Homo sapiens: one gene and its partners. The protein of the gene in region 1 purifies or fractionates together with the protein of each later gene. This does not show direct contact. Each region holds a gene or a part of one and is shown in the gene's direction. Other genes may lie near its edges.

Region 1 (3,656 bases):
CTTTAGAGACAATTTTTTCCTGTTGTACCAGAACATTGTACTGAGGCCATGTTTGAACATTCAATCGATGTGTTGGGAAAACTCTGCCCTACAATGTTAAAGAAATTAAATCTTTTGGGGAGTCTTTCCTTTGACCAGTTTATATCTCTGTTTTAGAGGAGGGCTTCTCAACCAGAATGGGTTTGTTGACTTATTTTTACAGACCTCTGGTAGAAAGGAGGTCTTTTTTTGCTACCTGTTCTCCTGTCTCAGAGAACTATTACAATGGTGTAAGTTCATCATTTCTTCCCCTTATTATGGCTCTGCTTAGGAAGAAAAACTCTTTGCATTGGCTACCAAGTACCTAACTATTCAAGATGCCACTGACAAAGAGTTAATCTGTGAATCATGTGAATCTGATATATCTGAAATATATCCAAACAAAAAGCACCTAGCCTTTTAATGACTCTCCAGAAGTCAGTTCTCTAACTTTAATTATCATCCTTCTGGGGATATGTGGAAATTCTACAGAAGTTGATTGGTGATATGTTGAGATGTGAGATCTGTATTTTCTAAGCAAAGTTGCCATGCACCTGATTGATTGGCTAGGTGTATCCTGGCATTTGTCATTTGTTGGTGGGGTCTGATAGTTGGTTTCACCACTGCTGGGTACCCAGAGTCATCACATCCATAGAGACAGAATGTAGGCTGGTGGTTGCCAGGGGCTGGGGGAAGGGAGGAGTGGGGAATTTGTTTAACAGAGAGTTTTAGTTTTGCAAGATGAAATGAGTTCTAGAGATTGGTTGCACAATAATGTGAATATCCTTAACACTACTGAACTTTATACTTAGAAATGGCTAAGATGGTAAGTTTTATGTTACATGTATTTTAACACAATTAAAAAAGAAAAAAAAAAAAACAACTTCAGGCCAGGCACGGTGACTCACACCTGTAATCCCAGCACTTTGGGAGGCTAAGGCGGGCAGATCACTTGAGGTCAGGAGTTCAAGACCAGCCTGGCCAACATGGTGAAACCCCATCTCTACTAAAAATACAAAAATTAGCCTGGCCTAATTGTGCATGCTTATAATCCCAGCTAATTGTGAGGCTGAGGCAGGGGAATCGCCTCAAACCCTGGAGGTGGAGGTTGCAATGAGCCGAGATCACACCACTGCACTCTCCAGCCTGGGTGACAGAGTGAGATTTCATTTCAAAACAAAAAACCACTTTAGAAACTGCTAGTTTTGGCAATAGTTATCACTATATGTTTTATCCTGCATATTTTCTGTTAAGAATAAGGAATTGTTTATGTTGATCAGGAATCTAAGTAATTAAAATACAAAATTCTGGCTGGTGGCTCTCGCTTGTAATCCCAGCACTTTGGGAGGCCAAGGCGGGTGGATCATTTGAGGTCGGAAGTTCAAGACCAGGCTGGTCAACATGGTGAAACCCCATCTCTACTAAAAGTACAAAAAATTAGCTGGGCATGGTGGTAGGCACCTGTAATCCCAGCTACTAGGGAGGCTGAGGCAGGAGAAGCACTTGAAGTCAAGAGGCGGAGGTTGCAGTGAGCCAAGATTGTACCACTGCACTCCAGCCTGGGTGACACAGCGAAACTCCATGTAAAAAAAAAATGAAATATAAAATTCCATACTCATTATTAATTACATATAGTATTAAAATAAAACCCAAACACCAAACCTTCCTTGATCCTATATCCTTCTCCAGCTACCATTCTCTCTCCTCTCCTTGGTCCAAATTTTTGATTTACAATGTTGGTTGGAAGTGGTACCACTTTGGTGTTAGTTCCTTATCATTTTACCTGGTCTGTCCTGCCTCTTCCTGGTACATTAGCTCCCTGAAGGCAGGGTGTATGTCCCAGAACTCCTTGAAGTCCCTTTTCTCAGCATACTACCATGCCTACTGCAGCACCCCCCATCTTTAATGTCCTTGACTTGGTGAAATATTACATTTTGAACACATTTCCTCACTTCCTTATGACAAATATTGATTGAGTTTCAGTGCAAGGTGAGTAAGAAATGGTACTTGCTTTCAAGGAGCTAAAAATCTGAATTTCCTTTTTTTTTTCTTTTTCTTTTTCTTTTTTTTTTTTTTTTGAGACAGAGTCTCACTCTGTCACCTGGGCTGGAGTGCAGTGGCACGATCTCAGCTTAATGCAGCCTCCGCCTCCCAGATTCAGTGATTCTCATGTCTTAGCCTCTCGAGTAGCTGGGACTACAGGCATGCACCACCACGCCTGGCTAACTTTTGTATTTTTAGTGAAGATGGTGTTTCACCATCTTGGCCAGGCTGGCCTCAAACTCTTGACCTCATGTGATCCACCCACCTCGGCCTCCCAAAGTGCTGAGATTACAGGCATTGACTTTACTTCTTACTCTCCTATGCACCTCTATCATTTTGAAGAAGGGTTCAAGGTAGTTCTGATAAGCAGGATTAGGTTTGTATGTAAGTGATTAAAGGGGTGCTATGAGCAAAAAAAGTGTGAAGGTATAACAAGCCAACCACCTCACAATGCAGTTTGCATGTTTCTTAATGGACATAGCAGGTTTTCTGTAAGAAAACAGCAGGAGATTCGTGTGGAATGATGGGTTGAGGCAACATAGTGGCATCCCTTGAATGCTCGAAGAATGTGACTTAGAGTTTGGTGGGAAGCAGAGAGCTGGGTTTTAAGAACATGAATCTGACAACTCTATGGATCTGGAGGAGAAGCTAACTGGGGACGAGGAGCAGTAAGAAGCCTGTTACAGATGCACTGATAAGAAGTAATGAGAGCTGGCCGGGCACAGTGGCTCACGCCTGTAATCCCAGCACTTTGGGAGGCCGAGGCGGGCAAATCACAAGGTCAGGATTTCAAGACGAGCCTGGCCAACATGGTGAAACGCCGTCTCTACTAAAAATACAAAAAGTTAGCTGGGCGTGGTGGCGGGCGCCTATAATCCCAGCTACTCGGGATGCTGAGGCAGAAGAATCGCTTGAACCTGGAAGGTGGAGGTTGCAGTGAGCCGAGATTGCGCCACTGCACTCCAGCCTGGGTGACAGTGCGAGACTCCGTCTCAAAAAAAAAAAAAAAAAGTAATGCGATAATGAGAGCTTACTTCAAGATGGCAGCAAAAGACAGTGGAAAAAAGGCATTGGGAAAAAAAGCCAATGTGCCTTGATGAGTAAAGTTAACTGAGTCAAGGGGAGAAGTCAAAGGTAACTATGATGGGCTTTTTCTATTAACACAAATAGGAAATGAGTGGTTTTGGGAAAGAAAGTGATGAATTACCCCTCAGATATTGTATTAATTGTCTATTACTGTGGCCGGGCATGGTAGCTCATGCCTGTAATCCCAGCACTTTGGGAGGCCGAAACAGGCAGATCACTTGAGGTCAGGAGTTCGAGACCAGCCTGGCCAACACGGTGAAACCCTGTCTCTACTAAAAATACAAAAATTAGTGTGGTGGTGTATGCCTGTAATCCCAGCTACTCAGGAGGCTGAGACATGATAATTGCTTGAACCTGGGAGGCAGAGATTGCAGTGAGCTGATATGGCGCCATTGCACTCCAGCCTAGGCAACAAGAGTGAAACTCCATCTCAAAAAAAAAGATTTGCCTGTAATCAGCCAGCACCCCCAGCCTTGTGCTCACTTTACATACAAAAATTCTGTTTTTTA
Region 2 (3,656 bases), on another chromosome or scaffold:
TTAGCTATCCCTGTCATTGCTGCTACTTTTTTATCATCTTCAAGTAAAATTTAATGTCAACAAAAATTAAGGTAGTTAATAATACTATAGTATACTAGTAAAGTTGTCTGACACAGACAACTAGGAAATGTGATTTTTACTTTAAAATGTATTTTAGTTTTAGAATGTCTAAATTTTAGTTTTAGAATTGTCTAAATTCGAGAATTCATAAAGCTGTAGCCCGGTGGAAAAAGTTATTTGACATCTCAGAAATTAAAAATTGCAGAGATTTTGTGTGTTTTTTTTTTTTTTGTTACTGGTTTGTTTTTTTTTTTTAATGTCAGATATGTTTATAGTGTTGGAGAAAGATTCTGCATTATTTAAGCAACTCAGGTGGTTTTCTAGCAGAGACAAAAGGGGGCTTTAACTGCCTGAAGTCATTATTATTGCTTGCTTTCTGGTACCCTTTTTATTTCACTTACATAGTTTTGAGACACATGAATAATTAATACACTTAATGACTGATCATAAGGCAGCCAGCACCTTACTTTACATAGTTTAGCAGAATGATAGGGTATTTTATAAGAATGTGAGTGATGTTTTATGAAAGGTATGTTGAGGTCTGTCTATGACTATCCATTGTTGGAGCAGAACTGCAAATGCCAAAGCTACATACTTTATGTTTGGCTTCTTGAGGTGAGATCCCTTCAGCTGTCTTCATCAAAAGCTATGTCTAGCCTTTAAAAGGCAATGAAATTACACTGTAAGAATCATTCCAGGGTTCAAAAAATTGTCTACCTTCCTTATCTGTCTTTCGCTCAGAAGTCTACTCAGTCTTATTTTCCTCAGTCCCCCATTTTTTTCTCTAGTAAAGCAAGACTAAAAACAAAAGTTTAAGTACTTGGTATATACTTTATTCTATATTTTAAATTCTATTCTAGAATTTTAAGGAAACAACTGCTTTTAAAGCCTTAGGTGTTAGTGTAAAATTAACTGTGAGCTCTTTAATTATGGTAACTTGTTTTTAGCAAGTTCTGCTTAATTATATCAAAATTAGATAATATAGTGTGGCCTATCATAAATCAGGATTCACTAGATAGTATATGTACTTGAATATTGCCAGCCCACAAAAGCAGTTCACTTCAGAAATCATGTGTGTTAGGCAGTTTAATAAACTGTGAAAATAGAAAGAGATGATGCTTACAGAGAAGCTTCCTTAGGGGCTCTGAATGCTCACACTAAGCAGATTTTACTCTTAACTTTCTTTCTCCCTTGCTTTTTCTTCCTTTTCTTTTTTTTAAAAAAATAACAGAATGTGAAAAGACTAGAAAAACCAGCATCGAAATAGGTCTTATAAGTAAAATTGATAACCTGTGTAATTTTTTGAAGTAAGTATTCACAGCAGGTGATGATTATGATAAAGCCACATATTTTAGTAACACATAGTAGAAGTTCTATAATAGAAAGTGGTTTAAGATTATTCTCTCATATGAAAGCTCAAAAGTGATGAATTTTTCAAGATCTTATTTCCCAAGGATCTCTGCTTTTTAAGCCTCATTCTTATATATCACAGTGAACAAACTAGTGGCCACTTTTTTATGACTTGCTAATTTTGGAATTGTATAGCAGGGTTGGGTGGAAAAGAAGAAATGAGAAACTTTGTGGTAAGCTTAATATTGATAAATAAAATTATGGGATCCTAGGCTTTAAGAGCTAAAAGAAACCTTAGAGTTATCCACTCCTTAGTTTAGAAATCAAGCCCAGAAAATAGTGACTTCATATATGAGACTCTTGTATGTTTTCTGTTGAGGAGTGGTAACTTGAATTAATAATTGTGGATTTTTTTAAAAAAGAAAAATATATTCATTGCTTTTATATATTGTGAAATTCAAACCAGACTAGCAGCTTTTTTCCTGAGGTTTTTAGAGAAATTGTCTTTGATGACAAGAGAAGAATTCATGTTGATAGTATTTTCACTAATCTCTGATTGTAGGAAACACTATCATTTTATTACTGCTAAGACAGAAAAATACCAGCAATTCATTGTAAGATGCTATCATTTGTATGGTGTAATCTGATTTCAGAGATAATGTGAAAAAAGTGAATTTTAGAATCAATAGAATATAAGTTGTCTCTTCACAAATACCTTAGAACTGCTTAAGAACACCCCCACCCTACCCGTTTAACTTACTGCCATAGTTCCCCTAGGACTTATTTTCAGTATTTTTTCGTTATTGTTCCTTAGAAAACAGTACAGTGATAAACATGAGCTTAGACTTCACCTTTCATTTGAATGACATTCCTAATGTGATGAGGTTTTTACAAATATGTAAAACCATATTTACAAATTTACATTTTTAATATAAATATGTAATTTAATTTAATATGTAAATTAATTTAATTTAAATATGTAAATATTTACATATTTACAAATATGCAAATATTTACATATTTACAAATATGTAAATATTTACATATTTACAAATATGTAAATATTTACATATTTACAAATATGTAAATATACCCATTTGTGTGTTCTTTTACAAGTAGATAATTTCTCATTTTTCTTAGATGAAGCACTTCCAATGATAGTATGTATTAAGATTTTTTAAATTACTTCTTAAAGGAGAAGATAGAGGTTATAAGTTTATGGAAGAATATAGTATTGCCATCATGAGGTCCCTCAAACTGCCTTCACATCTGAATGGGAAAATTGTTTAAAAAAAATAAATAAATAAATAAATAAAATCCAGGGCCCTAACCTCTAGAGGTTTAGATTAGAAGCTGTATTGTAGAGCCTATGAATCTGAACTTCTGGTAATACTCCACAAATATTTTGATAAAGCCAGACTCCAATATTTGGGAAGATGGCCTTTGGTTCAGCTCAGGTGGGGGTGTGTGTGCATGTGTGTTTATGTGTGTATGTGTGCATATATAGAGAGAAAGAGAAAGGCCATTTTGATATACAAGTATGTTTATGTGTTTTGGAAACTCAGATTTTTAAGAGGATCATGGGGACAGCAAGCTTGGAATAGAGGATGATGATGATGTGAAACTTGGTTCCAATTAGTCAGGGAGTTCTAGCATTTCACATAAATATCTAAAAACCAAAAGGAATGGCTGAGATGTGGAATTGAATAGGGAAGTTCAAAAATAGGAATTAGCACAGATAAAGGTGATTGGCACAGATAAAAAGCCCCACTACCAGGAGGTTCTGCAAAATCCCCTCTAAAAGTCACTGGCCCTTTTTATCTGGTTTCTAATAGCCTAGTCTAACCCAGCTTCCAGCATTTTCAGCTCCCAGCTTCCAGCATTGGTGAACACTCTTACTAGTGAAACATGAACGTAATTCTTTTATTTATTCATTGACTCACAGAGCTTTAAAAATGAGATTATTCTGTGCTGCACTAGGTATGTTTAATTTTGTCTTACACATACACTATATTGTGGTTAACATGTAATTTCCATTGTTCTTTCTTGTGATTTATTCTAATTGAAATCAAAAATGAAACCAAGAAATATGCTTGGTTTATGCCCTCAAAGTAATTTCTCAGAAACTGAATGAGAGAATGAAGCCTATATATACATAGATCCTCAGCATTATATAATAATTTAAGACAATGAAACATCAAACTTAGTATTACATGTGAGGAAAATGAAATCTAAAAGAGATTCCA
Region 3 (3,656 bases), on another chromosome or scaffold:
GAGCCAAGGTCCTGCCACTGCATTCCAGCCTGGGTGAGTTAGTGAGACTCTGTCTCAAAAAAAAAAAAAAAAAAAAAAATTTAAAATAAAATTATCAAATCCCTTTATTTGGCAAAGGAGGAAGCTAAGGTTTTGAAAGTGGCCAGTGGCTGGTTAGGATGTTAAAACCTTAATTAAAGGCTTAATTTCACGCCTTTTATCTCGAAATGCAGTGTTTTTCTACCATACCAGTGATCTTTAATCCCTGGAAGGGCTTGTTGAAATGTATGTTCTTAGGGGACGATTTGGCTGTAGTATACCAACTTGGAGAAATAATGTACCTGTCATGCTGACAATCATGTAATGATTAATAATCTGGGTCCTGGAGCCTACTGGTTTGTTTTAATAGCCAAGCAACTAGCTTTATGATCTTAGGGAAGTTACTTTACCTCTTGATACTTCTGTTTCCTGACTTATAAATTGGGGGTTAATTATAGCACCAAACCTCAAGGTTGCAGTGGAATTATTAACAAATGAATTAAGTATACGTAAGATTTAGGATAGAGTCTGGGACAAAGGAAATTCTTGGTACATTGTATTTTGTTACTGCTACTACTGTATTGTTGATTTCATTGACATGAAATTTTCTCTGTTGGCAACTCAAGAGTAGAGTTTGTAGTCTGGTAGATACACTGAAACTTTGGTAAATGCATCAGAAATGGAACTTTCTGCTTGGTTGTATTTTTTATTAACCAAAAACTTTTAATTTCGTCTGTGGGGAAAAGTCTAAAATAATTAAGTCTTTTTTTCTGCCACAGTATCTGTATGGATATTGATCCTCCTTAAGTCGATTATTACAAGTACGCAGAATTGTTCTTCTATTGTGGATATTAAACTACATCTAAAAATGGAACTACTAGGCTGGACATAGTGGCTCATGCCTGTAATCCCAGCAGTTTGGGAGGTCAAGGCGGGTGGATCCTGTGAGCTCGGGACTTTGAGATCAGTCTGGGCAACATGGTGAAACCCTGTCTCTACAAAAAAACACAAAAATTAGCTGAGCGTGGTAGTATGCGCCTGTAGTCCCAGCTACTTGGGAGGCTGAGGTGAGGCTCACTTGATCCTGGGAGGTGGAGGTGGAGGTTGCGGTGAGCCAGGATCGCACCACTGTACTCCACAGAGTGAGACCCTGTCCCCCCCGCCACACACAAAAAAATTAAATATAAAATAAAGATGGAGCTACTAAAGATAGTGTTGGGTCTAATGTGCACTGGTGTACTCTACCAGTTTCTGAAAAAGGACTTTACTACATCTCCCTACTTGCAAAGCATTGAGATTTTCAGTAGCTCACTTATCCATAAATAGGCACCTGAAATGTAAACATAGAAATGGACCTCCGAGATATTCTCAACATTTCAATGAGAATGGCCCAGGGCCACTTTCAAATCAAAGAAGTTATAGAATTGTGTGTAGAATTGTGACTTATCTGGCCCTTAAAATCCAAGAGTTATTCGTTTATCCATTCATTCAGCAACAATATTTTGTGCCCTTATGATGCTTATCAAGCACTGTGCTGGATATAGAATTAGACACAGATATTGTGTAGTTCTAGAGGGGAAGACTGAGGTAGCACTGAGAAGGGGTTGTATCGCCAAGACTGAGAAAGGAATTCTTTTTTTTCTTTCTTTTTTTTTTTTTAAAGAGACGGAGTCTCCCTCTGTCACCCAGGCTGGAGTGCAGTGGCGCAATCTCAGCTCACTGCAAGCTCTGCCTCCTGGGCTCACGCCATTCTCCTGCCTCAGCCTCCTGAGTAGCTGGGACTACAGGCGCCCCCACCCCCACGCCCGGCTAATTTTTGTATTTTTAGTAGAGACGGAGTTTCACTGTGTTAGCCAGGATGGGGGTAAAGGAATTCTAAGCAGACATTTTAGAAAAGAGAGCTATGTGGAGAATGGGAAAGCTTTCCACTTGAGAGTGTGATAAAGAGCTTAGCATATCCAAAACCAAACCCCATTCCCTCCAAACATTCCTCACATATTTCTTTGCCATCTCATTAATGGCAACTCCATTCTTATAGCTGCTCAGGCCAAAATCCTGGGAATTGTTAGCAAAGCCTTTGTTTATCCCTTCAAAAGATACGTGTGTGTGAGGTCTCCGTGACCACTCCCAGGCTAAGAGTTATGACAGCAAGAAGATACAAAGCAAAGTCAGCAAAGAGAAAAGGCTCATTGGATAAAGACCAAAAGAAATCAGTCACAAGCTTCCAAAAGACCTCTCCAGAAGATTCAACACAGGACATGCTTAATTCCTCCATCAGTGACTTGTGACAACACATGCAAAGTGTCTACCAAAGCTCATTAGAGACCCAGTGCCCAGAGTTTTTAGGGGAGGCTGGCCATGTAGACCACCCACTGGCTGGCATATATTATACCAAGTTTCCATACTCCCAGAAGGGAAGCAGGTGTTTGGCACAAAACACGTTGTACAAACAGGTTAGGCACAGTGAACCATTCTTAGCAGTTCTAGGAATGGTGAGAACCCTTCCAATATCCAGGTTCCCAGATGGCAGCCAAGGGCCAGCCTTGGACGCAGACCTTCCTAAGGATAATGGTTTCAGGTCTGTTAACTCTTTTCTGCAAAATATCAAAATTTTAGATGCCTGATATCACTACCAGTCACCTTGGTTATTGTCGTCTTACAAGTCTGGATTAATTGCAGCAGTCTCTGTCGTCTCCCACTGCACCTCCCTGCACACTGCTCTCAGTTCAGCAGCTGTAGTGACCCTGGATCATATCACTCTTAAGAATTCAACATTGGCTTTCCATTAGTATAATTCAAATAAAAACTGAAGTTCACAACAGGGCTGCTAAGGTGAGGCTCAAGGGAAAGGGGTTTTTGAAAGGGGTAGCAGAAAGCTAGGTCCAAAATAAAACACTGCCTCCAGGTTCCAGGTATGAGCAGCTTTCCGTTGAGAGCTGCAGGGAAGCTTCTGTGCCCCCTCCCTGAGGAGTCCAGGTCAGTAAAACAGCATTAAGGATATAGGATAAGTTTTTGCTTTGGAATAAAGGCCCAAGTAAGGCACTCAGACACAGAAGAGAATAAAGAAAGCAATTCTGGGGCATTTCTCAGTGGGGCCCCTGGTGGTATTGGAGAGTTGATTATGCTCAGGTTTAGGGAGCAATTTTAATGGGTAACAGGACGTGGGAGAAGGTTCTGTTGTTCATTCCTCAGAGGGCACGGTGATATCTTCCATTTGGAGGAGGGACTCTTGGTGAAGTTGAGCGTGGGTGGATAGTGACCTTGCTTTGGAGGAAATCCTATTCTGGGATTCTGCTGTTAGGACTAGTTAATTCAGATGATTCTTACCTAGAGTTTAAAACAGTCCCCAGTGGTAGCAAACTTAAATATTAAAATCAGCCATGGGGAGGGAGGCTTAAGCCATTGCTTGCCTTGCATAATTAAAGGCAAGTCTTGTAGAGCTGAGAGTACAGTGCAGGTGTTTGTCTTTTGTCTTTTTTCTCTATATATACATGTATATATGCCCACACACGTTTGCGCATTTAGGTTACATACATAATTACAACTTACGGAATTTTTGTTTATCAAAACTCACAAGGTCCTCTTAAAAATTTAGCTAGAAAGACTTGTGGGCTGGATACAGTGGCTCACGTCTATAA

Evidence for each region.
Region 2: the proteins of ESR2 (region 1) and UBE3A purify together in Homo sapiens (affinity purification with western blotting; 4 studies listed by BioGRID). This does not show direct contact.
Region 3: the proteins of ESR2 (region 1) and PTCD3 purify together in Homo sapiens (affinity purification with mass spectrometry; 3 studies listed by BioGRID and IntAct, with this or other methods). This does not show direct contact.

Annotation. Positions count from the first base shown.
Region 1 is NC_000014.9:64,284,267-64,287,922, reverse strand, and holds part of ESR2 (estrogen receptor beta), read left to right. Parts: intron 1-3,656.
Region 2 is NC_000015.10:25,366,010-25,369,665, reverse strand, and holds part of UBE3A (ubiquitin-protein ligase E3A), read left to right. Parts: intron 1-3,656. UniProt on the Homo sapiens protein: E3 ubiquitin-protein ligase which accepts ubiquitin from an E2 ubiquitin-conjugating enzyme in the form of a thioester and transfers it to its substrates.
Region 3 is NC_000002.12:86,112,626-86,116,281, forward strand, and holds part of PTCD3 (small ribosomal subunit protein mS39 precursor), read left to right. Parts: intron 1-3,656. UniProt on the Homo sapiens protein: Mitochondrial RNA-binding protein that has a role in mitochondrial translation.